7 linked regions of the Homo sapiens genome follow. The protein of the gene in region 6 purifies or fractionates together with the protein of the main gene of each other region. This does not show direct contact. Each region holds a gene or a part of one and is shown on either strand. Other genes may lie near its edges.

The links.
Region 1: the proteins of HTR2C (region 6) and PTRH2 purify together in Homo sapiens (co-immunoprecipitation; 3 studies listed by BioGRID and IntAct, with this or other methods). This does not show direct contact.
Region 2: the proteins of HTR2C (region 6) and SEC63 purify together in Homo sapiens (co-immunoprecipitation; 3 studies listed by BioGRID and IntAct, with this or other methods). This does not show direct contact.
Region 3: the proteins of HTR2C (region 6) and ACTA2 purify together in Homo sapiens (affinity purification with mass spectrometry; 2 studies listed by BioGRID and IntAct, with this or other methods). This does not show direct contact.
Region 4: the proteins of HTR2C (region 6) and GPR89A purify together in Homo sapiens (affinity purification with mass spectrometry, with the first as the bait; 2 studies listed by BioGRID). This does not show direct contact.
Region 5: the proteins of HTR2C (region 6) and HEATR3 purify together in Homo sapiens (co-immunoprecipitation; 3 studies listed by BioGRID and IntAct, with this or other methods). This does not show direct contact.
Region 7: the proteins of HTR2C (region 6) and TAPBP purify together in Homo sapiens (affinity purification with mass spectrometry; 2 studies listed by BioGRID and IntAct, with this or other methods). This does not show direct contact.

What each region holds. Positions count from the first base shown.
Region 1 is NC_000017.11:59,700,931-59,704,430, forward strand, and holds part of PTRH2 (peptidyl-tRNA hydrolase 2, mitochondrial isoform b precursor), read right to left. Parts: intron 1-3,500. UniProt on the Homo sapiens protein: Peptidyl-tRNA hydrolase which releases tRNAs from the ribosome during protein synthesis. Promotes caspase-independent apoptosis by regulating the function of two transcriptional regulators, AES and TLE1.
Region 2 is NC_000006.12:107,951,709-107,955,208, forward strand, and holds part of SEC63 (translocation protein SEC63 homolog), read right to left. Parts: intron 1-3,500. UniProt on the Homo sapiens protein: Mediates cotranslational and post-translational transport of certain precursor polypeptides across endoplasmic reticulum (ER). Proposed to play an auxiliary role in recognition of precursors with short and apolar signal peptides.
Region 3 is NC_000010.11:88,946,274-88,949,773, reverse strand, and holds part of ACTA2 (actin, aortic smooth muscle), read left to right. Parts: intron 1-820; 5' UTR 821-843; coding exon 844-972; intron 973-2,387; coding exon 2,388-2,516; intron 2,517-3,500. UniProt on the Homo sapiens protein: Actins are highly conserved proteins that are involved in various types of cell motility and are ubiquitously expressed in all eukaryotic cells.
Region 4 is NC_000001.11:145,617,988-145,621,487, reverse strand, and holds part of GPR89A (Golgi pH regulator A), read right to left. Parts: intron 3,169-3,500; coding exon 3,065-3,168; intron 1-3,064. UniProt on the Homo sapiens protein: Voltage-gated channel that enables the transfer of anions such as iodide, chloride, bromide and fluoride which may function in counter-ion conductance and participates in Golgi acidification.
Region 5 is NC_000016.10:50,086,470-50,089,969, forward strand, and holds part of HEATR3 (HEAT repeat-containing protein 3), read left to right. Parts: intron 1-3,500. UniProt on the Homo sapiens protein: Plays a role in ribosome biogenesis and in nuclear import of the 60S ribosomal protein L5/large ribosomal subunit protein uL18 (RPL5). Required for proper erythrocyte maturation.
Region 6 is NC_000023.11:114,582,766-114,586,885, reverse strand, and holds the start of HTR2C (5-hydroxytryptamine receptor 2C isoform a precursor), read right to left. Parts: upstream 2,801-4,120; 5' UTR 2,227-2,800; intron 1-2,226. UniProt on the Homo sapiens protein: G-protein coupled receptor for 5-hydroxytryptamine (serotonin).
Region 7 is NC_000006.12:33,299,194-33,301,636, forward strand, and holds the end of TAPBP (tapasin isoform 1 precursor), read right to left. Parts: 3' UTR 501-2,443; downstream 1-500. UniProt on the Homo sapiens protein: Involved in the association of MHC class I with transporter associated with antigen processing (TAP) and in the assembly of MHC class I with peptide (peptide loading).

The sequences.
Region 1 (3,500 bases), on a different chromosome or scaffold from region 6:
AAAAGGTGTGGCAAAATATGGCAGGATTGCAGAGGAATATTGAAAGCATGGTTAAGATTAATGATGACTTTTTAATGGCAACATACTATTTGTGATTTTCTCCAGTAGTACTTAGAAGCCAAAAGACTAAAACTACTAATCACTTCCTCCAGACATACAAACTAACCTCCATCCACACTCATCCTTTGCTCTCCCCTCCTACTGAAATGGTAGTTGGATGTATCCAAGTTTAAATTATGCCAGGAGCACGCCCCAAGACACAGTGGTACAAGGGAATTTAGGATAAGGGTAAGAATGTTTGACATGATAGACCATGCAACCTGTGTTATTACATTTTTCTCTTTTGGCCTACCTGATAAAAAGCAACCTGTATTATCAAAGACTGATTTATGGACAATAAAGTGATGCATGCTATTTATCTAGACATGCTGTTGAAGAACAGGTGTAATGAAAGTAAACTGGAAAGACTTAGAGCGATGCATAGGGTTTTGATTTTGGAGACGAACAATTACAAAGAACATAGCTATAGGAATGGGTATCTGAAATAGAAGTGTGACTACTTTCTACTTTTTCAATTCTTTTAGTTTTATGATATACTGCTTCCCTTCCACAAATACTGATTGACCCTGTTCTAGAATCTAAGGGATACAGGAGTGCACAAAGCAGAAAAAGTCCTTTCTCTAATGAAGCTTACATTTTAGCAATGGTTTTGAAATGGTCCAATCCTAATTTTGAATTTCTTTCATGCTGTTTTAAAACTTTGGGGTTTTTTTGTTTGTTTGTTTGTCTATTTGAGATGGAGTCTCGCTCTGTCGCCCAGGCTAGCATGCAGTGGCGCGATCTCAGCTCACTGCCAGCTCCGCCTCCCGGGTTCATGCCATTCTCCTGCCTCAGCCTCCCTACAGGCACCCACCATCACACCCGGCTAATTTTTTTTTTTTTTTTTTGTATTTTTAGTAGAGACAGGGTTTCACCGTGTTAGCCAGGATGGTCTCAATCTCCTGACCTCGTGATCCGCCCACCTCGGCCTCCCAAAGTGCTGGGATTACAGGTGTGAGCCACTGTGCTCGGCCAAAACTTTGTCTTTATAGCTCAAAATTTCCACAATACTTTGACATGTATTGTTATTTGATCCACTGAGAAGTGAGGATTACTGCCATATCAAAAATGAAGAAATTCAGACCAAGAGAAGTTAAGTTCAATAAAACAAATGTTTACTGGCTATCTATGTGCCAGCCATACACCCTGTTAAGCTGAGGATATAGTGATGAATATGGGCCACTGTCAGCTGTTCATAGATAAGTAGTGAAGACAAATAATTGCAAGACTGGTAAATGTTATAAAAAGGTGTTTGACAGTCCCATCGGGGGTGAGATGGGAGGCAGTAACAGATCATCAGACATTAGATTCTCATAAGAAGTACACAACACAGATCCCTCGCATGGGCAGTTCATAACAGGGTTCACACTCGCATGAGAATCTAATGCTGTCGCTAATTAGACGGAGCTCAGGAGGTAATGTTAGCGATGGGGAGTGGCTGCAAATACAGATAAAACTTCACTCAGTTGCCCACCACTCACCTCCTGCTGTGCGGCCCAGTTCCTAACAGGCCACAGGGACGCCTGTTCTAAAAGATACCTGAGCCTTGACTAGCAGTTGGCAATAGATACAGGGAGATCATTTCAGAGGCTGCTATAATGTAGTAATAGTTAACATTTATGAAGTGTTCTGCTACACACTGGCTAAACACTCTATAGGAATTGTCTTCTTTAATGTGCCTAACAGCACTTCAAGGTAAATAGAGCTGGTCATGGACTTACTGTAGTTTCGCTTAAGCTTTTTGGCTTTACAATGGTTCAAAAGCAACACATATTCAGTAGAAACTTTACCCATACAAACATTCTGTTTTTCACCTTCAGTACAGTATTCAACGAATTACATGAGATATTCAACACTTGTAGGCCTTATGTTAGATGATTTTGCCCTATTGTACGCTAATAAATTAAGTGTTCTGAGCACCTTTAAGGTAGGCTAGGCTAAACTACCATGTTTGGTAGGTTAGGTGTATTAAATTTATTTCCAACTTCTATTTCCTTTTCTAAGAGACAGGGTTTCACTCTTTTGTCCAGGCTGGAATACAGTGGAGTGATCATAGCTCACTGCAGCCTCGAACTCCTGAGCTCAAGCAATCCTCCCACTTCAACCTCCCCAGTAGCTGGGACTACAAGCACATACCACCACACACTGCTAATTTAAAAAAAAACTTTTTTTTTTAAGACACAGGGGTTTCATTATGTTGCCCAGGCTGGTCTCGAACTCTGGGCCTCATATGATCCCTCCCACCTCAGCCTCCCATGTAGCTACATTTACAGGCATGAGCCACTGTGCCTGGCTCTCAATTTATGGTACTTTCAATTTATGATGGGTTTATCAGGATATAACCCCACCCTAAGTTGAGAAGCATCTATATATAATTATGATCCCCATTTTTCGGATGTAGAAAAATGAGGTACACAAGTTATAGCTTGCCTAAATTCACCCAGCTCATAAGTGGTCGTCTTAATCCAGAGCCCTTGTTCTTTTTTCTTTTTGAGACAGAGTCTTGTTCTTGTCTCCCATGCTGGAGTGCAATGGCACAATCTCGGCTCACTGCAACCTCTGCCTCCTGGGTTCAAGTGATTCTCCTGCCTCAGCCTCCCAAATAGCTGGGATTACAGACACCCGCCACTACACCGAGCTAATTGTTTGTATTTTTAGTAGAGACGGGGTTTCACCAGGTTGGCCAGGCTGGTCTCAAACTCCTGATCTCAGGTGATCCAGCCACCTCGGCCTCCCAAAGTGCTGGGATTACGGGCGTGAGCCACCATGCCCTGCCGAGCCCTTGTTCTTTTTTTTGGAGACGGAGTCTCACTCTATTGCCAGGCTGGAGTGCAGTGGTGCAATCTTGGTTCACTGCAACCTCCACCTCTGGGGTTCAAGTGCTTCTCCTGCCTCAGCCTCCCAAGTAGGTGGGACTTCAGGCATGTGCTACCACACCCGGCTAATTTTTGTATTTTTAGTAGAGATGGGGTTTCACCATGTTGGCCAGGCTAGTCTCGAGCTCCTGACCTCAGGTGATCCACCCACCTCGACCTCCCAAAGTGCTGGGATTGCAGGCGTGAGCCACCATGCCCTGCCGAGCCCTTGTTCTTAACATTACTATATCAGGCCTCTCCCAGCAGTCTAGATGAGATGATGGTCATTTAGACAACAGTAGTGGGAATGAGAAATAAAAAAAGTGTCTAAGGTACACCTGTCTGATTTAGTGACTGACAGGAAGTCTGGTGGCAAAAGAAAGGGAGAAGTTAATAATGACAGCTAGATTTGAACAAATGGAGAATTTTGGTGAAATACCAGGTTTGAATGGAAAAGATAATGAATTAGTTTTGTTCTGAACAAAAGACATCTCAGAGATATCTAGAAAGAAGAAAAAAAAGGATATATCAGCTTAAAGGACAGAA
Region 2 (3,500 bases), on a different chromosome or scaffold from region 6:
CGCGGTGGCTCAAGCCTGTAATCCCAGCACTTTGGGAGGCTGAGGCAGGCGGATCATGAGGTCAGGAGATCAAGACCATCCTGGCTAACCCCGTCTCTACTAAAAATACAAAAAATTAGCCAGGCGTGGTGGTGGGCGCCTGTGGTCCCAGATACTCGGGAGGCTGAGGCAGGAGAATGGGGTGAACCCAGGAGGCAGACCTTGCAGTGAGCTGAGACCGCGCCACTCCACTCCAGCTTGGGTGACAGAGCGAGACTCCATCTCAAAAAAAAAAAAAAAAAGTTCCCGAAGTGATTCTAATGTGTAGCCAGGGTTAAGAATCACTATGCCAAGGAAATCTAAGCCCTCCGTGTTATCATTGCATACAGAGCTTTTGTCCTTAATTGTCTGAAGAAATATTCATTTTATTCAGCCAATTTGCAAACCAAGAGAGTAAAACAAATAACTACTAAAAGGGGTATTAATTATAAGTACGCTTAGCTAAACATGTTAAGCAGAAATCAAGGCAAAAGTATTCCATTAATAATGTTTTAGATAACAGGTACGTTCAATTAACATGTCAAATATGCCAATAAACGAACTATTTCCATTTTTCAAACCGCAGACTTTACAAGCTGTGAAATGGTGCTATGCTTTCTGGTGTATTCAAGAGCCCACTAATTCCAAAACAGCCATGCTGAAACGACTGTCAACCTTAAAAATTGAAAGTCCCAAATGTGTTGCAGAAAACACACAAAAAAAAACCTCAATAAAGATTAGTTAAACTGGGCCGGGCACAGTGGCTCACAGCTGTAATCCCAGCACTTTGGGAGGCCGAGGTGGGCAGATCCCTTGAGGTCAGGAGTTGGAAACCAGCCTGGCCAACATGGTGAAACTCTGTCTCTACTAAAAATACAAAAATTAGCCGGGCGTAGTGGCAGGCACCTGTAATACCAGCTACTTGGGAGGCCGAGGTGGGAGAACTGCTTGAATCTGGGAGGTGGAGGTTGCAGTGAGCCAAGATCTTGCTATTGCACTGGAGCCTGGGCAACAGAGCGAGACTTCATGCCAAAACAAACAAAAAAAAAATTACTTAAACTGAACTTTAAGGTTGTGTAACTGCCAGAGCAAACCTTTTCATGCTTTCATGCACATGCTATCTCTGAAAATACTGTCAGAAGTCTGAAATTCAAACGCATGCCTACATTTTTGTATTTGGCTACTTAACTGTTTCACAGGAAAACTAAATAAACTAAGCCTCAAAAACAAGTATTAAAATATGCTGCTGTGGCCAGGGAACAGTGGCTCACGCCTGTAATCCCAGGACTTTGGGACGCCGAGGCAGGTGGATCAATTGAGGTCAGAAGTTCGAGACCAGCCTGGCCAACATGGTGAAACCCCATCTCTACTAAAAATACAAAAATAAGCCAGGCATGGTGGCTCGCGCCAGTTTTCCTAGCTACTCAGGAGGCTGAGGCACGAGAATCGTTTGAACACGGGAAGCAGAGGTTGCAGTGAGCCGAGATCACGCCACTGCACTTCAGCCTGGGTGACAGAGCAAGGCTCCATCTCAAAAAATAAAAATACTTATATATGCTGTTGTGTTTCCCCAAAACTGTACTACGGGGGTCCTCATCTTTTACTTAAAATCCTTAAGAACAAATGTGCTTCAGAATTTTTCAGATTTGCCCCGTCCGGGAAGGAGGTGGGGGGGTCAGCCCCCCGCCCGGCCAGCCGCCCCGTCCGGGAGGTGAGGGGCACCTCTGCCCGGCCGCCCCTACTGGGAAGTGAGGAGCCCCTCTGCCCGGCCAGCCGCCCCGTCCGGGAGGGAGGTGGGGGGTCAGCCCCCCGCCCGGCCAGCCGCCCCGTCCGGGAGGGAGGTGGGGGGGTCAGCCCCCCGCCCGGCCAGCCGCCCCGTCCGGGAGGTGAGGGGCGCCTCTGCCCGGCCGCCCCTACTGGCAAGTGAGGAGCCCCTCTGCCCGGCCAGCCGCCCCGTCCGGGAGGGAGGTGGGGGGTCAGCCCCCTGCCCGGCCAGCCGCCCTGTCCGGGAGGGAGGTGGGGGGTTCAGCCCCCCGCCCGGCCAGCCGCCCCGTCCGGGAGGGAGGTGGGGGTGTGAGCCCCCCGCCCGGCCAGCCGCCCCGTCCGGGAGGGAGGTGGGGGGGTCAGCCCCCCGCCCGGCCAGCCGCCCGGTCCGGGAGGTGAGGGGCGCCTCTCCTCAGCCGCCCCTACTGGGACGTGAGGAGCCCCTCTGCCCGGCCACCACCCCGTCTGGGAGGTGTACCCAACAGCTCATTGAGAACGGGCCATGATGACAATGGCGGTTTTGTGGAATAGAAAGAGGGGAAAGGCAGGGAAAGGATTGGGAAATCGGATGGTTGCCATGTCTGTGTAGAAAGAGGTAGACACGGGAGACTTTTCATTTTGTTCTGTACTAGGAAAAATTCTTCTGCCTTGGGATCCTGTTGATCGGTGACCCTACCCCCAACCCTGTGCTCTCTGAAACATGTGCTGTGTCCACTCAGGGTTAAATGGATTAAGGGCGGTGCAAGATGTGCTTTGTTAAACAGATGCTTGAAGGCAGCATGCTCGTTAAGAGTCATCACCACTCCCTAATCTCAAGTACCCAGGGACACAAACACTGCGGAAGGCCGCAGGGTCCTCTGCCTAGGAAAACCAGAGACCTCTGTTCACTTGTTTATCTGCTGACCCTCCCTCCACTATTGTCCTATGACCCTGCCAAATCCCCCTCTGTGAGAAACACCCAAGAATGATCAATTAAAAAAAAAAAAAAAATCAAAAAAAAAAAAAAAGAATTTTTCAGATTTTAGAAAAGTAACACAGCGTTTACACTCAAACAGACCCTATGGGGTCTAAAGTGCACCAATAACCAAACAAATTAATATTCCAAGACAGAACATAACTATTTATTAAGTGAGATAAAGATTATTCAGTAGCCTCCTGTCAGTACAAGTCGGCAAATTATTTTGCAGCAAACTTCTGAAAAAAGTTCCTTATTCAGAGCTTTGAATGAGGCAGTAATTCAAGATTTCTCTTTCATATTCAAGATACTGCAACTGGGCTGCAGAAAAAAAGTCACTATGATGAAAACATCCTTTTACTACAACTGTAATTCCACAGAAACAACTCAAGTTATTAGGGTAAATCCAAGAAAAAAGTCCAAGTGGTGCCCAACAATTTTCATAATGATTAGAATAGCATTTAAGTATTCACCTTAATTTTCATAACACAATTTTGAGCAAGAGCAAACAAATACATCAAAATATGCATATGGACTAAGGCAAGCCTGAAGCAGAGAGCCGGATGTAAAACGGGCAAACTGACACCCATAATAGTTCACCTAACTTTCTATCTAGCAGTATGGAAACCACACAGGGCTCTGAAGCTAAGCGACCAATGTTCTAATCCCAGTTCAACCATACAGGAAAATTACTTACATGCTCTACCCTCAGTTTCTTTACCTGTAAATGGAGATAATAATAGAACCTACCTCACTGCATTGC
Region 3 (3,500 bases), on a different chromosome or scaffold from region 6:
TTTTAATGAGATTTACAATGTTACTTTTTCTAACCTATTACTCTTACATAAGAACTACCTTTTGCTTATCCTCTTACTCTACCTTTTTAATGGCAGTAAAGTATTCTACCATATGATATATAATCCATCAGGCTCACCCTCACTTGTTGGACTGTTAGCTTAACAGTGACTTTTATTAACGGTGGATAATTGCAGCCCCTAAAATTTAAAGCACCTTCTCAGAAAATTTTATTTCAAAGCTTCTCTGAGGGTAAAGTAAAAGTCCTCATGATTCAAAAAGATTTTTCCATTAAACACTTGACCATTTTAACATTTCTAAATTTTTACATGCTGCCTGTCCCTCAAAAATCTAGCTTTTTGAAAAAATTTCAAAAAGGTATAGCATATCTAGAAAAATGTGCATTTGGGTTGATACAGACAGGAAAATCTAGATGCTTCTTTAACATAAGGTAGGCAACTTGTCTCTGCAAAGATCTGGTCTCAGACTCTGGATTTCCCATCTGTGCTCTGCAGTTTGTTTATTCATTCACTGGCTCTATCCACCTTTAAAGTGCTCACGAGAACACATGATATGCCGGTCACTACACTAAGGTTGTATCAACATAGAAGTCAGAGTTTCAGAAGTCAGAGTTTCAGCTTACTGAAAGCTTATAGTGTAACTAAAGTACTTCCAGATACATGCTATATTAGATAAGGGTCAGAGGATAGCACTAGGACACAGAGGAGGGCCCCCAAACCCAGCCTTGGAGGTGGGAGTTGTCAGGTAAGTGCCACAAATGCCCAATTACAGCTGAGGCTGCTTCCTCCCTGTTTTCTATAGAATCCTGTGAAGCAGCTCCAGCTATGTGTGAAGAAGAGGACAGCACTGCCTTGGTGTGTGACAATGGCTCTGGGCTCTGTAAGGCCGGCTTTGCTGGGGACGATGCTCCCAGGGCTGTTTTCCCATCCATTGTGGGACGTCCCAGACATCAGGTGAGGAAAATTATGATTGGAACATAACAGGACACAGATTAGGTTCCTCTGTGTTCATGTTTATCCCCAGATTGTCTATCTCTTTCTGCCCAGAAGTTATGTAACCTTGTTACAAATAGACCTCTAATGATTAAGGTCCAGGAGTAAATGCCAATTTCACATATAATGTAGACAGATTATCTGATGGGCATCTATCAGATACAAAGTCTGCCCCTTTTTCATGTCCTTTTTGTCTAAATATAGTCATTATCATCATCATCATCATCATCAAATCATTTCATCACCATCAGAAATGCTTATACATTATCCTGATGTATACCAAAGCTACTGTTTGGAAAGAAACTAAAATAAAAGTCCAGGTCACTTAACCATACAGGGCTGATGTTAGATGAAAGCAAGCATCGATACCAAATGCAATTTTACATAATATTACCTGTCAACAAAATATATTTGGACAGCCGCATGGTAATTTTACACATTATGTGTAAACAAAGTATTGGTGGCATCACATGGTAAAAACTCAGTAATTTCACCTCAGAAATTCTTCTTCACATCAGAAATGTAGTTTGTGCATTGAGGCTATCTGATTGATGTTTATGCCTCTCTGCTTGGGATATATTCATGAGAATAAATAATAGAAACCTCTCCCAATGAATGCAGTCTGTCTGAATTCATTGATCTTTATGCAGTGGAGATATTCTGCACAAGCCGCTATTTTATGGGTCCATAGTAGCCATGGCTGTTTTGTAGTTCTAAAATAGTCACTGCAGTGCAATTTAAAATCTAGTAACAATAATTTTTTAAGAACTTCACCTTAATGATTTTTTTTAAATGCAGCTGACTAATTTAGGCAAATGTCTTAACAGTTGATTGGTATGAACTTATCCATTAGAAATCAAGCCTCAAGTGGTTATTTGTAGATGCAATGCTTTTGCTTATAATAGTTAGAAAATAATGCTCATATTCTTTTGGGTAGGTGATGACTTTAAAAGTACAGTTTAAAGGATTTATAAGACACAAAATGCCATTTAACAAATATGTAAAATTGTATACATTCTTTCAACAAATAATTATTGAGTGCCACATATGTGCCATGCAATTTGCTATAGTGATGGACAAGACAGACATGATCTCTGCCCTAAAAAAGCTCATCAAGGAACATAGGAGATAAAAATACAAAGTAAAGTTGACTTTCCCCCAACATCTCCTGTTATTTGGAGGCAATTCAGGTCTTTTTCCAATCAACTGCAGAATTTTGCTTAAGAGCATAGTGGCAATGAGACTCAATATGTTTATTGTTGCTGATAATCAGAAGAGGAACTTCCCATCTCAATGACTTAACCTTTTGTGGCTTGGCTGTAATTGATTCACAAGTTTTGGGAGATGCTGACTCATAATGTGTTGAACCTTTTTAGGGGGTGATGGTGGGAATGGGACAAAAAGACAGCTACGTGGGTGACGAAGCACAGAGCAAAAGAGGAATCCTGACCCTGAAGTACCCGATAGAACATGGCATCATCACCAACTGGGACGACATGGAAAAGGTATGGGAGGTTTGCTGCAGCTTGGGCCCTCAGGATGCATAATCCCTGTGTTCTCTGATACAGAACACCACACTACTGCTGGGGAAATAACTGGCTCACATTGCTCAACTGTACTTTTACTTGTTAATGTTCATTCTGGGTTATTACCCATTGAAAAAAAAATCCTTGTAGCCATAAAAAATGATGAGTTCATGTCCTTTGTAGGGACATGGATGAAGCTGGAAACCATCATCCTCAGCAAACTGTCGCAAGGACAAAAAACCAAACACCGCATGTTCTCACTCATAGGTGGGAATTGAACAACGAGAACACATGGACACAGGAAGGGGAACATCACACACCGGGGACTGTTGTGGGGTGGGGGGAGGGGGAGGAATAGCATTAGGAGATATACCTAATGTAAATGACGAGTTAATGGGTGCAGCACACCAACATGGCACATGTATACATATGTAACAAACCTGCACGTTGTGCACATGTACCCTAAAACTTAAAGTATAATAATAATAAAATTTAAAAAAAAAAGAAAAAAAAATCCTAAAATGTTTCTTTAAAAAAAAATCCCTTGCCAGGCATGGTTGCTCACACGTGTAATCCCAACACTTTGGGAGGCCAAGGTGGGAGGATCGCTTGGCCCAGGAGTTTGAGACCAGGCTGGGTAACATAGTAAGATCCTGTCTCTACAAAAAATAAATGAAATTAGCCAGGCATGGTGGCACACACCTCAGTCCCAGCTACTTGAAAGATTGAGGTGGGAGGATCACTTGAGCCTGGGATATGGAGGCTGCAGTGGGCCAAGATCCTACTCCAGCCTAGGTGACAGAGTGAGATCCTATCTCAAAAAAAAGAAGAAAAAAATCCTGCAGGGCACAGTGACTCACACCTGTAATCTCAGCACTGGATCACTTGAGGCCAGGAGTTTGAGACCAGCCTGAGCAACATAGCAAAACCCTGTTTCTACTGAAAAAAAAAAAAAAAAAAAGG
Region 4 (3,500 bases), on a different chromosome or scaffold from region 6:
TGGTAACAGGTAAAATATTGGGCCAAGCCTGATGGCTATTATAAAACAGAATTCTAGAAAGTTGCTATGGGTAGGTCATAAATTTAGCTTTAAGTTTTCTAATGGTCAATGTGAAATAAAAAATTTGATCAGTTAGATAAAATCATCATGTCTGTAAGAAAATAAAAATTAATTCCTCAAAGGAAGCATAATTATCATTTATTGTTACTGAATTATTAACAAGATTACAATGAAATTTCTTCAAAGATTTCATAAAGAAAATGCAAAGGCAATTAACAGTGTCATCAACAACATCCTTTCAAGAGAAATATGTTTCAGAGGGCTGTTTCTTATTGTTCCTTCCTTAGTACAGATGGCAGGCATCACGAAACAAAGAGCCATTCAGTAAAAGCTACCCTACAGGGAGTGAATACCATTTAGACTAGATACATTGACAGCTTTTTGCTCCTCTAGGTTAACAACTACTTTAGAACATTTAGAGAAAGAAACAAGCTGGACATCCTCCAGGCAATACTACATAGTATTTCAGCTAAGCTTCTGAAAGATTTTGGGAAGCAGTGGGTTTGAAATAACAAGTGCAACTTTAATTGGCAGTATGGACTGCCTATTAAAAGTGAACCACATGTTTTAACTAGTCTTTTGAGCTGAGAGTAAAGTGATATTCTCTTGAAAAAACTAAGCATCCCAACAAGATTACATATTTGAATAGGAAGTCATATGATCTCTGCTCAAAGGTGAGTCAAAGGAATATTCTGGCCAAGATTCTCTTTTCAAAACGATTCTGAGTCCAGTCAATGGACAGTTATACATCATCAAGGTTCATATTTGTGTTCCATAATTGGGTGAAACATTAGCATGAAAAAACAGGTATAACTGAAGATATGTCTCAGACCCAATCCTCTATATAGCACACAAAGAAAAACCAGATTTTAGCAATGCTACTTCTTATCCTCTTTAACTAATTAAGAAATTTAGGAAACATACACCATAGTATGACAGATGTTTCTTACTATACGGGTTATTAACTATAAGTTAAAAGTTGGGGGACATCATCTACCAAAAACAGTAAATATAGCTTTAGAATATCTGAATCCTCTGTATCAATATTTAGATGAGTAGCTGGCAAACTATGGCCTCACAGCCACCTGCTTTTACAAATTAAGTTTATTGGAGCATGGCCATGCTCGTTTGTTTATATATTGCCTATGACTGTTTTCTCTCTACAACAGCAGAGCTGAGTACTTGTGATAGAAACCTTCTGGTCCACAGAAACCTAAAATATTTATTATCTGGCCCTTTACAGAAGAAAGCCTGCCAACCCCTGCTTAAATAGCAGTGAAAGATGCAGGTTGTGATAATAAAATTTAATAACCATTATGTAAAATAATACCTGTCTATTCTCTATAGTCACAGGATCTATATCTAGCTCATCCAAGAAAAGGTTTGGATTATTTTTTATTTATTTATTTTTTTGAGATGGAGTCTTGCTCTGTCGCCCAGGCTGGAGTGCAGTGGCACAATCTCGGCTCACTGCAAGCTCTGCCTCCTGGGTTCAGGCCATTCTCCTGCCTCAGCCCCCCAAGTAGCTGGGACTACAGGCGCCCACCACCACGCCCAGCTAATTTTTTGTATTTTTAGTAGAGACGGGGTTTCACCATGTTAGCCAGGATGGTCTTGATCTCCTGACCTCGTGATCCGCCTGCCTTGGCCTCCCAAAGTGCTGGGATTACAGGCGTGAGCCACCGTGCCCGGCCAAGGTTTGGATTATTAAAGTTTAAAAGCAGGAGAATCAGAAAACACTTCTATTTTACCATAATACATGTTATTCATTGTTCTATCAAGAGACCATTATTATCAACTCTGATTCTCTCTCTCTCACTCTTTTTTTTAAGAGATGGGGTCTCATTGTCTTGTCCAGTGATCACAGCTCACTGCATATCCTCAAACTCCTGGGCTCAAGGGATCCTCCTGCTTCAGCCTCCAGGGTAGCTGGCACTACAGACGTGTACTACCACACTCTGCTAATTTTTTTTATTTTTTTGTAGAGACAGGGTCTCACTTTGTTGCCCAGGCTCGTCTTGAACCCCTGCACTTAAGTGATCCTCCTGCCTCAGCCTCCCAAAGTGCTAGGATTATAGGCGTGAGCCACTATGTCTGGCCCCTCTCTCTTCTTTTTTTTTTTTTAACCTTTCAATGTTTTGTGATTAACCATCTGTATAGTAAGTTTTTCTTTTTAATTTAAATTTCGTTTTCAACTCTGATTATCAAAGGATTTGAGAGTATAGTCTCTCTACAAGTCTCAAGTGCCAGGGGTCTATAATGAACTTACCTTGGCACTGAATCCTAACTTTAGAGTGAAAGACTGCTTTACTCCTAAAAGGTTTTTCCAGGTGGTGATAAAAAAGCACAACAAAGTCTGCATAGCATAGTTGATGAACCCTACATATAAATGCTGGCCTAAAAACATACTCAAGCTTGCAGATTAACAAGCAAGAAATATTTTGAATAGACTGTCTAATAAACTAACAAGTCTATTATTTGGAGGGGAGTAAAGAGTTATTTTTAAAAAGTGTTTTAAGAAACACTTTAAATTCAACCAAACTTGACCATGACTGTAAAATCAATAAAAATAACTAAGTTAAGTAAGAACTGGAGTTTCAGTCTTCAGAGAGATCATTAAAGTAGCTCTGAGGAATTCTAATCTTTTCAGGTAGAGATTTTCAATCAGCAGAACAATGTGAAGGGCTGTTACTGGGATTCAGTCAGCGAGCAGTCCTGGAAAAATAAAGCTTCTAGGAGTGAAGCCTAGACTGCAGCTTCACAGCCTCACTCCAATGAGTTCTTCAGAGTTAACGGTCAGATCTTTTGTTTCCTGGTATCTCATAATCTTTATCAAACCAGCTATTAGGTGGCTGTGACCCATATCTGTTGTGATCATTGCAGTTACTGAAACTGAACTATTAACACAGTGTTTTTTTTTTCAGTTATGAGATCCAATAGCTTTTCCACTGTAAAGAATGTAGCACAGAACTCTTCAAGAGGAGTTTTCAGTACTCTTACTCACCTGCTATTCAATACTCCTAAGATTTCAAAGATGATGAGCTCAAACATGGTGCAAGAAAATGCAAACGTCACGGAGAAGATCACCTGTACAACATACTGACGTATCTGTTAAAAGCCAAACAGAGACTAGAAGTTATTTCCTTGTTTAAAAACTGAACTGATAACCTCCTTCTGGTTACAAGTCAGAAAACTTATTTTGAGGAAATTCTCAAGTCATTGGAAGTAGGGCCACAACAGCAACTTGCCTGGAGCTAAAGAAAAAGATCAATATAGGTGGCACTTCTGAATCTTGAGTCACTATTACCAGCATCCTCCTGTGGATGAAGAATTTTGAGGACAAGAAGATGAAGTGACAGGGTCATAGGTAGCACTTAGAATTCCTGATGCATACTGACAAAAAACTGACAGATTCGTACATAATGGTTAATGTTTAAAGG
Region 5 (3,500 bases), on a different chromosome or scaffold from region 6:
ACAGGAATCATGTATTTATAGTTGCCATGGGGTACAGAGTCAAAACGAGGTATGCAAGCAGCTCCTGGGCTTATAATTTTCTTTTTTGTTAAAATTGTTTGCATCCAGTTATATCAGGCCAGTCAAGGCTGTATCATAAATATCATAAAGGCCTCATTAAGGTATTTGGATAATTCTCAGCCAAGCACGGTGGCTCATGCCTGTAGTCCCAGCACTTTGGGAGGCCGAGGCGGGAGGATCACCTCAGGTCAGGAGTTGGAGACCAGCCTGGCCAACATGATGAAACCGCTCTACTAAAATACAAAACTTTAACTGGGCGTGGTGGTGGAGATGCCTGTAATCCCAGCTACTCGGGAGGCTGAGGCAGGAGAATCGCTTGAACCCAGGAGGTGGGGATTGCAGTGATCTGAGGTTGTGCCATTGCACTCCAGCCTGGGCAACAAGAGCAAAACTCCATCTCAAAATAATAATAATAATAATTGAGTACTATTCTATTATTTTCTTCCCAGTTACAAGCATTTAAGTTTGATTAATATATGTATGTAGTACAGAATTCAAAAGTTATTAGAGGACAGAAACTGGAAAGCCTCCCTCCTTTCTCCGACACCCAGTTCCTCTCCCAGAGTCAAGTTACTGTTGCACCAGTTACTTGTGTATCCTTCCAGAGAGATTCTCCATGTATAAGAGAGCGTGTGTATGCGGGCATGCGTGCGTGTGTGTAAGGCAAATGGTAGAATACCATCCACACAATTCTACACCTTGCCATCATCTAACATGTATCTTTCTTCAAACACCTTTGCATGGTAGGAGCTGATTCTCTTAAGTTACAGGTCTCTGATACGGATTAATTTCATATGCACACAAAGATCTATAGCGATACAAGAGTTAAATTAAATATTCTTTTAAATGACCTAGCTGTAGGTTTCACTTGGAGGGAAAAACAAAAAAAACAAAAACTAGCTGTACAAAGTCCAATGCATGTTCTTCTAACAGATTTTCATAGTTCCTCATAGTAAAATCTTACTTAATTTGACCACATTAAACTATAGGAGCTCAAACCAAACAAAAACAAGAGAGACTGAGAGAGAAGAACAAGTGGTGTTTTCTATACTGAAGGAAAACTCTCCACATTACTCCACCCAGTATCCATTGCTGGAGCGAGGGTAGCCTGGGAGGTGGGAATCTGCCCCTCTCTCTCAGCTGCTGAGGTTCCAGGTGTCTTTCAGGATTTTTTGAGGGTAAACGTGAAGATATTTGCTTTCTACACTGGCAAATAAGATAATTCCATTGTGTTATATTCAGTGTATTCTTCATATATTTTATCCTCCTTTTCAGACACAACATTAAGTCCAAGAATTGAACTCTTAAAAGATCAGGCCAGGCGCGGTGGCTCACACCTGTAATCCCAGCACTTTGGGAGGCCGAGGCGGGTGGATCACCTGAGGTTGGGAGTTCGAGACCAGCCTGGCCAACATAGCGAAACCCTGTCTCTACTAAAAATACAAAAATTAGCCAGGCGTGGTGGCAGGCACCTGTAATCCCAGCTACTCGGGAGGCTGAGGCAGGAGAATCGCTTGAACCCGGGAGGCGGAGGTTGTGGTGAGCCAAGATCGCGCCATTGCACTCCAGCCTGGGCAACAAGAGTGAAACTCCGTTTCAAAAAAAATCAAAAGAGAGTCACTTTTAACTAAATACAAGTTTTTGTGTCAACATCCATTCAAGTGTTGGTCCCCAGTTCTTTAGACATCTGTTTTACATTCCGTCAAGTTCCTAAGAGGTGCTGTGTGTTTAATGGTACATGTTTTTTAAGTTCTAAATTAATCTTTAAAAATTAAGTAATTAAATATTCAGAAACCCATATGTGGTTACTGAGCTGTCTCTGCCACCCTTTCAACATTGATCAGTTAACAGGTGTACCTTTCAAGTACTCCCTGGCTGTGCATTCATTGGCTGGAATGATCCCATGAAAGCTGTGCCCAGCCATGCCCAGGACAGGATATAGTCAGGATATGGGCAGTGCTAGTCCCATTCCCATTCCAGGGCAGGACGGGACAAGCACTGGAGTACAGAGGCAGCTCGTCAGTGTGAGCAGACCAGATGATGGCTGTAGCTTTGTATTTGTCTCCTAGCCTCCTAAACCTGGAAGAGATCTGGATGGTAAACGGGGAGGGGACTTTCCCCAACTTTTGCAAGCATTCTGGCTCCCATCAGCCCAGCAAGATGTCCTGTGGGGTGGGAGTGAGAGGGCTGCTGTTGCTCATGCCCACCCCCACCCATTCCCCTGAGTAGAGGCAGGGGGCAGAGCCAGGCAGGGAGTCCACAGCCAGGGTCCCAGGTGAGCAGGACCCCAAGTCTCTCACTGCTTCCAAGCCCTACCTAAGCTCTAGGTAACCCTGGCAGCCCTGGTTCCACAAGCTGCCATCTCTCAGCTCTGGGCCATTTCTCACTGAGAGTCTGGTCCAGGTACCCCCGGTCCCATCCCCAGGCAGCACACAGAGGTTATTTCACTTGAAACAAACTCCCTGTGTGCCTGTGCTATAGTGAAAGCACTCAGATATGTTTCTCTTGGTTCTGCTGGTTATTTGTGGTCACTGAGGCCAGCACATTTATTAACTGCAAAGATCACAGGAAAACTGCCCCAAGCTGAGTCCTGGAGAAATAATGGAAAGTTTCTGAATTGTGGGAAAATATAACTAAGCACTTTGATTTTAAATAAATTCCCATTTCATGTCTATTCTTGACATCATCTTTTTTTTTTTAAGGTTCAGGAATGTGACATGCTGCTAGGTTAAGAATGCTTTTGTGTATCCTGAGGGTCTTGATGATATTTATGTAGAAATCGCCTACCACACGTTACTGTCACAACAGTAATTTTGAAAATGTATTCACCTAATGACATGTGCTCAGTTACTTCCAGGGATTGGTAGTCTGAATTGGCCTTGCCTATGTAATGGGTTTGGATGGTTACTGCTGGGGGAAGAGGGCCATTACAATACCTCTGGGCTGTCCAGCTTGCTTGGGGCCCATACTCGTATCCCATCTGTGGCCTTCGTATCACCTAATATTGGCATTCGGAGAAATGGAGAATCAAAATGACTTGAAAAGTAGTGTCATTGTTATTTATTTTGGAGTAACAGAATGTTTTCTTATCAGAATGAATTTGATAAAGGATAATCGCTTATATTTGGAGATGATATTCTTTTTTTTTCTTTTATTTGAGATGGAGTCTTACTCTGTTGCCCAGGCTGGAGTACAGTAGCACGATCTTGGCTCACTGCAATTTCTGCCCCCCAAGTTCAAGCAATTCTCCTGTCTCAGCCTCCCAAGTAGCTGGGATTACAGGTGCCTGCCAATGCGCCCAGCTAATTTTTGTATTTTTATAGAGACGGGTTTCACCATGTTGGTCAGGCTGGTCTTGAACTCCTGACCTTGTGATCCACCCGCCTCGACCTCCCAAAGTGCTGGGATTACAGGCATGAGCCACCGTGCCCGTCCTAGAG
Region 6 (4,120 bases):
AATGGCACCGATAAAATGGAGGATAATAATATCTCCGTCATTCATAGACTTGCTATGAAGACTATATGAAATAATATATATTTTATGTATATATATGTAATAGTCCTGGATCCACGTCTGGCATCCAGGAGGTTCCCAGAAATATCAGTTCTCACCTCTTTTCTGATGAATTCATACTGCACAAAAGCCTGTTACATTATCTGAAAAAGTCATCACTGTCATCCATGACACCTCTAGATGGAGATAAACCCCTCAAGAAAGCATAGAAAGGGTTAATAACCCTCTCTAGATAATGCAGATAGAAAAACACCGTCATTTTTGCTAAAGCACCCCAAATCCTACCTTGACATTGCAATCAACAAGCCTTATCCACCTTCCGAATTTCAGGACTTGCGTTGGGCTTGTTGCTGTAGATGATAGACGCTATTAGGAAAGAAATCATGTTGATGAAACAAATATTTTCTTCCCTCCCCAGGAGGATCAGGAGAATTTATTTAAGGAATGAAAAATATAATTAAATATTCTATAACCTACCTCCCCAAAATATGGACAAAATTATTTATTTCCCCCCACCTGTGGGGTGGAATGGGGGGGCATTGTAGATGATTCCCAAACAGCCAGGTGCTAAGGAGATTATACTCTTCAGAACAGACAATATTCAGTATGATTTCAGTACTGCAAAAGAGATGCAATGATCACGGTAGATATCATTTTCTGTGGGGCATGTCAGTTGGCCTTTGTCATTGTCTCTACACATATGTAGCCAACTACACAGTAACACCTTGTTTCTATTGCACTCATATTTTGATTGTCAGAATGGCTGATATGTACGTAAACTTCTTCATGAAAAATTTAAACTCTGGAGCCCAGATATCTTTTTTCATTACCGTGTATGTGAGGTCGCAATTGTCTGCAAACTGGGGAGCTCAGAGGTTACTCAGTGCGCCGCATTTCCTCACCCCCCGCCCCCCAAATCATCTTAGCTCAACCATATATGAGCGTCCCTCGGTTAGCCTGCCTAAAAGGTATGAGGTAAGGGGCATATGCACTTAGTGGCTCAGCAATCAGAGGCTTCCTTGGATGGGACTTATACTGGTAATATTAATGAAGAAGCTGCGCGGTACTGGCAGTGATTCCAGACCAAATCTTTTAACTGCCGAATGTCACTCGCTGAATTATGAGTTGGGGAGCTCTGTTGCTTAAAATACAGGGTTCTCAAACACAATGCAAGTGTTTGTCACCTCAAGTCGCATACTACCCAACAGGAAGCAAAAGGCAAAGGGCATGGCGCAGAAAAGAAACAGACACACAGACACGTTTTGCAATGACGAACTTTATGTGACATCAGGAACGGCAACCTGTTCTCATGTTTAGCAATTCCGAGGAACGCTGTAAAGACTGCTTGTCAGGTAAAACTGAGTACAGGAATAAGAGGCAGCGCTGGAGACTTTTTCGCAATCCTTTTCAAAATATAGAACAGTAACCAAATGACTTAGATAAGCTAATTAATTATTTAAAAAAAGGTTCACTGGATGCCTTTATCCTCTCCTCTTAAGCTTACGTGATCACCAGCAGCGCTGTTCAAATTCAGCTAACAGCTGTTAGACCAAACACAGATCCGCAGTGTGTTATCTCCCCAGAGTTACGGATGTTCGCTGAGACCCGCCAGAAAAATTAGGGTCGCTTTTCAATGAGAACATAATAAAGGATCCTTGGTTCCCCCTCTGCACACACTGTCCCAAACCTTGCGCCCCCTCCCACTTGCCTGCTGTCGGATTTCTTAAAATTGTAGTCGGTCCTGCAACTCAGTTGCATCTTCCGCAGCCCGACCCTCTACTCAGCGACATTGCGTTCAGTTTCCCTCCTTTCTCTCCTCCCACTCCTCACTTCTTGAGACCCCACCCCCGCCTTCCGTTTCTGTCTCGGCTTCCCCCGCGCCAGGTTCTCTAGACCCCCGCCTCCGCCCAGCGTCTTCATCTCGAGCCCCCGCTCCCAATCCCCTTAGAGACTTCTATGCTCCTTCCGTGGAACCTAAGCTCCTCTCTTCTTCCAGAGACTCAGTCTCCTCGCGATTTGCGCGTTCAGAGTCCCTCCCCCCAACCTCCGCTAGGGCCAGTGCGGTCCTGCAGGCTGCAGCCATCCGGGACCTGTCCCCGCTCCCCACCCCATCCCCCGCCTAAATCGTTGGGGTCTCGGCTAGCAATGCCGCCCGGGGCTCCAACTTACCACTAGCGTCCGGGAGGAAGACCAGGCAGCGGTCGCCGCGGCGGCAGCTAGACGAGAAACGGACTCGGCTGCAATCGCCCAGCGGAGCCCGCGGCAGTCGGTGCGCTGAGCTGCGCTGCGCTGCGCGCCGCAACCTCGCGCCTCGGCGGAGGGAGAGGAATGGAGGGAGCTCGGCGCGATAGGAAGCGCCGGCGAGTCGACCTCCTTTGGGTGACCGTGCGCCCCCCGGCTAGGTTTGGCTCTTTTCGCTCCGCTATCTTACTCTAGCTTAGTAACTGACCACCTCCAGCATCTCTGCACTAATCGCGTCTTCTTTCTTCTTCGTTGGCCCCTAACTAACTACACTACTCTAAACGGACGAAGGCCATCACACGAGCGCCACGACGATCGCGACGACTCCGACGACAACGATGTACAGACAGAAGAAGAGTTCATATGCAATCGGCAGGTAAGGGGCAAGGCAGGCCAATGGAGCAGCCAAGGCTAGCAATCTAGCCGCTCCAAAGGCAGTATCGGGAAGATCGGTGCATCTGAGGAAGGAAGCGTCCTCGGCAAGCACCAGAGCGCCTACCTCGCGCGGGTGAATCTGCACCACGCTCTTGGGCCAAAAGCGGGATGAGGGGAGGAGCCAAGAGCAGCCAATCAGCACTCAGCATTACGTGGCCCCCGGGCCTGTTTGGACCGGTCTCTTAGTGCATCTGGAGCCTGCTGGCAGGGGGCGCGAGACCCCATGGTGGAGATGGGGGTGGGGGTGATGATTAATCTGATTCACAAGGCCTAGAGAGTAGGGGGAACCAGGATCAGCCATGGCACCGGATAGAGAGAGAGGGAAGGCTTTCTCAAGAATGTACCCTCAAAGATTCATAGCATACCCCTCCCCAAACACACACACACACACACACACACACCCCTGTACATTTCATTTCAACAAACAGCATTCTCAAGTCTTGCAAATTTCATCAAGCTTTGAAACTCCCTTCAAGGGTCTCTGTTCCGACTCTTGCCCATTCCTCCAACAGTAGCAACTGAGGCACTCACAGGGTCAAACATTTGGTGAGTGCGCAAAGGCCACAATCCTGTTATAAGGCCCACTTCCCCATCCTTGTCTCCCCATCCTTTCCCTAACCCCAAAGGAGAAAGAAAAGCTCTTGGCCTTCGAGCCCCGGGAAGGCACAGTTTAGTTCCTTTCTTGACCCCACAGGCCTCATTAGAAAGACACCTTGAGGGCAGCTCTTACGGGTTTCCAAGGGGGTGAACATATCTCTCTGGCACAGGGCCTTGGGCCCACAGCCAGTCGGTTGCCCAGTCGTTGTGGGGGAGGGAGGGGTGCTGTCAATGCAAGGTCAAGGCAGCAAGAGGTGAACCACAAAGGCTCTCTTTTGGCAACTGCTGGGATGCCGAGCTGCAACCGGTCAGGCAGAGCTCTAACCGGTCAGGCAGAGCTCTTTTTCACAGGCTCCCAGGCGCAACCGGGCAGGTGCCTGCGGTGTCCTGGCGGCAGCGCAGAGAAGGGTGAACGGGGCCCCCTTGGCTCAGAGGCACCAAAACCAAGCTGAGTAATGGAGATGATCCCACGGAGAATGGGGACAGAAGCAGATCTCTCCTAAGAGGGAACGAAGGGGCGAGCGGGGGTGGTGGTCTCGGGTCGCGGCCGAGGTTTCTCGGCCCTGTACCGAGGACCGGGGTGGGAAAAGTGGAGATTGGCTCCCCGCCTGTCGGAGGTAGCTGGACCGAAGCAAAAGATCGAGCCTCCGGTTTGGCTACTTAGGACCGGACGGCAGCGCAGCGAGTGTATAGAAGAGGCTACAGAGAGGCCGTACAGAGAGAGGCTTGGAGGACCTAACCCGGCAGAACGCAAAAGGGGTGGGAGCTGCCGGCTATTCTGAAGGCCGAA
Region 7 (2,443 bases), on a different chromosome or scaffold from region 6:
CAATGAACTGGAATAAAGATTCCAGTCTCCAGCCCCTGGGGGAAGGCAGGAGCAGAATTTGACATTCCCTTCCCCAACAATAACACGGCTAAAACTCCCGCGGGAAGCGTTTCAGGCGGAGAGAGAGCCGGTCACTCCATCCCCACGGGATTACCCTCCCTACCACAACCCACGAATGTAGCTGACCGAAATCCCGGCCGGGTTTTCCGAAGGGCCCTCGATTCCCGCCCCCTCGGCAGGGGGCGGGGCAGGAAGCAGCCACATCCGGTTCCAGATTCGGCTCTCAGAGGCTTCCGGCGCCGAGACCGAGATCCCCGTCGGCTCGGTGTATCCTCGCTGGTGGAGTACCCTCTGCTTGAGCGCATCTCATGCGCCAGTAGTGGCGCCCGCCCCGAACGGTGTCGACGGGGCGTTCTCTGAGCGGTTCAGGGTCACTGGAAGGGACCAGAGGTGATTGGAATATTCATTGAGCTTGGAAAGGGGTTGGAATGAGAGAACCGTTTGGAAGCACTGGAATACAGCTTTATTCCTACACGATTAGACCCGTTACCCCGTGGGTCTGGCCGACCGTCCTGACTCGGAGATCCCTGAGCTGCGCCGCCGCTTCCTTCGTCAACATCCAGCAGCTACTTGATGAGCGCCCTCCAGTGGGCCTTAGGTCCCTATGCCGGCGCGGGGTTACAGCAGTGGACAGACAGGCCAGTCCCTGTCCTCGAGGAGCCCATGATCCGCGGGGAGACAGGCATTTAACGACGACTCACACGATCACTTAAATACAACTGTGGTGAACCGCACAAGAGGGACGCGCGGCGGTCTGCGGGGAATGACGAGGCCGACCTCGTCTGCGACCCAGGGAGGGCAAGGGTGGACCAGGCAAAGGGAACAGAGGACTGGGACCTGGAGGTGGGCGGGAGGCGTTTGGTTCATTGGAGGAAAGGAATAGCCCTGTGTGTGATGAGCATTGAGAGGAGGTCTGGCGAGCACCATCTAGGGCTGAAGAACTAGGCAGTGGCTCCAGCGCGGGGCGGTGGGGGGGACAAGTGAGCCAGGGCAAGAAGAATGGATTTGGCCCTAGAGTACGGGTTCTCCAAATGTAACCTCGGCCCTACAGATCTCTGAGACTATGTCAGGGGGTTTGTGAGATTTTATAACAAAATTAAGATGTTAGTACAATATCGTGTTTCGCCGCCGGGCGCGGTGGCTCACGCCTGTAATCCCAGCACTTTGGGAGGCCGAGGCGGGCAGATCACAAGGTCAGGAGATCGAGACCATCCTGGCTAACACGGTGAAACCCCGTCTCTACTAAAAACACAAAAAGTTAGCCGGGCGTGGTGGCGGGCCCCTGTAGTCCCAGCTACTCGGGAAGCTGAGGCAGGAGAATGGCGTGAACCCGGGAGGCGGAGCGTGCCGTGAGCCGAGATCGTGCCACTGCACTCCAGCCTGGGCAACAGAGCGAGACTCTGTCTCAGAAAAAAAGAAAGATTATTTGCAGCCGGGCGCGGTGGCTCACGCGGGTAATCCCAATACTTTGGGAGGCCGAGGCGGGCGGATCACCAGGTTAGGAGATCGAGACCATCCTGGCTAACACGGTGAAACCCCGTCTCTACTAAAAAATACAAAATATTAGCCAGGCATGGTGGAGGACGCCTGTAGTCCGAGCTACTTGGGAGGCTGAGGCAGGAGAATGGCGTGAACCCGAGAGGCGGAGCTTGCAGTGAGCCGAGATCGCGCCACTGCACTCCAGCCTGGGCGACAGAGCGAGACTCCGTCTCAAAAAAAAAAAAAAAAAAGTTTTTTGCCTTCTTCATTCTATAAGTGTACAGTGGAGTTTTTCAGAAGCTACATGATATGTATTGACACCATGGTTCCCACGATGAATAGAATGTGTGCCTATGTATTCTCGTGTTTTAAATTTTTCTCACTTTTAAGTTCTAGTACCATAAATATTGATAGCTATAACCCACATACCCAAAAGCTTTTTGGGGTCCTTGATGATTTTTAAGAGGTCCTGAGAGAAAAAAATTTTGAGAACCACTGTCCTAGAGCTCCAAGAAGGTGAATGCCATAAGATGTGTGTTTTTTAAAAAAGCATTTCTCGGGCCTGGTGTGGTGGCTCACGCCTGTAATCCCAGCACTTTGGGAGGCTGAGGTGGGCAGATCACCTGAGGTCAGGAATTCAAGACCAGCCTGGCCAACATGGTGAAACCCCGTCTCTACTAAAAATACAAAAATTCACTGGGTGTGGTGGCATGTGCCTGTAATCCCAGCTACTCCGGAGGCTGAAGCCACAGAATTGCTTGAACCCAGGAGGCGGAGGTTGCAGTAAGCCAAGATCATGCCACTGCACTGCAGCCTGGGCGGAAGAGTGAGACTCCGTCTCAAAAAAAAAAAAAAAAGAAAAATTATCCCTTATATAAGTGAAAGAAAAAAAAAAAAGCATTCC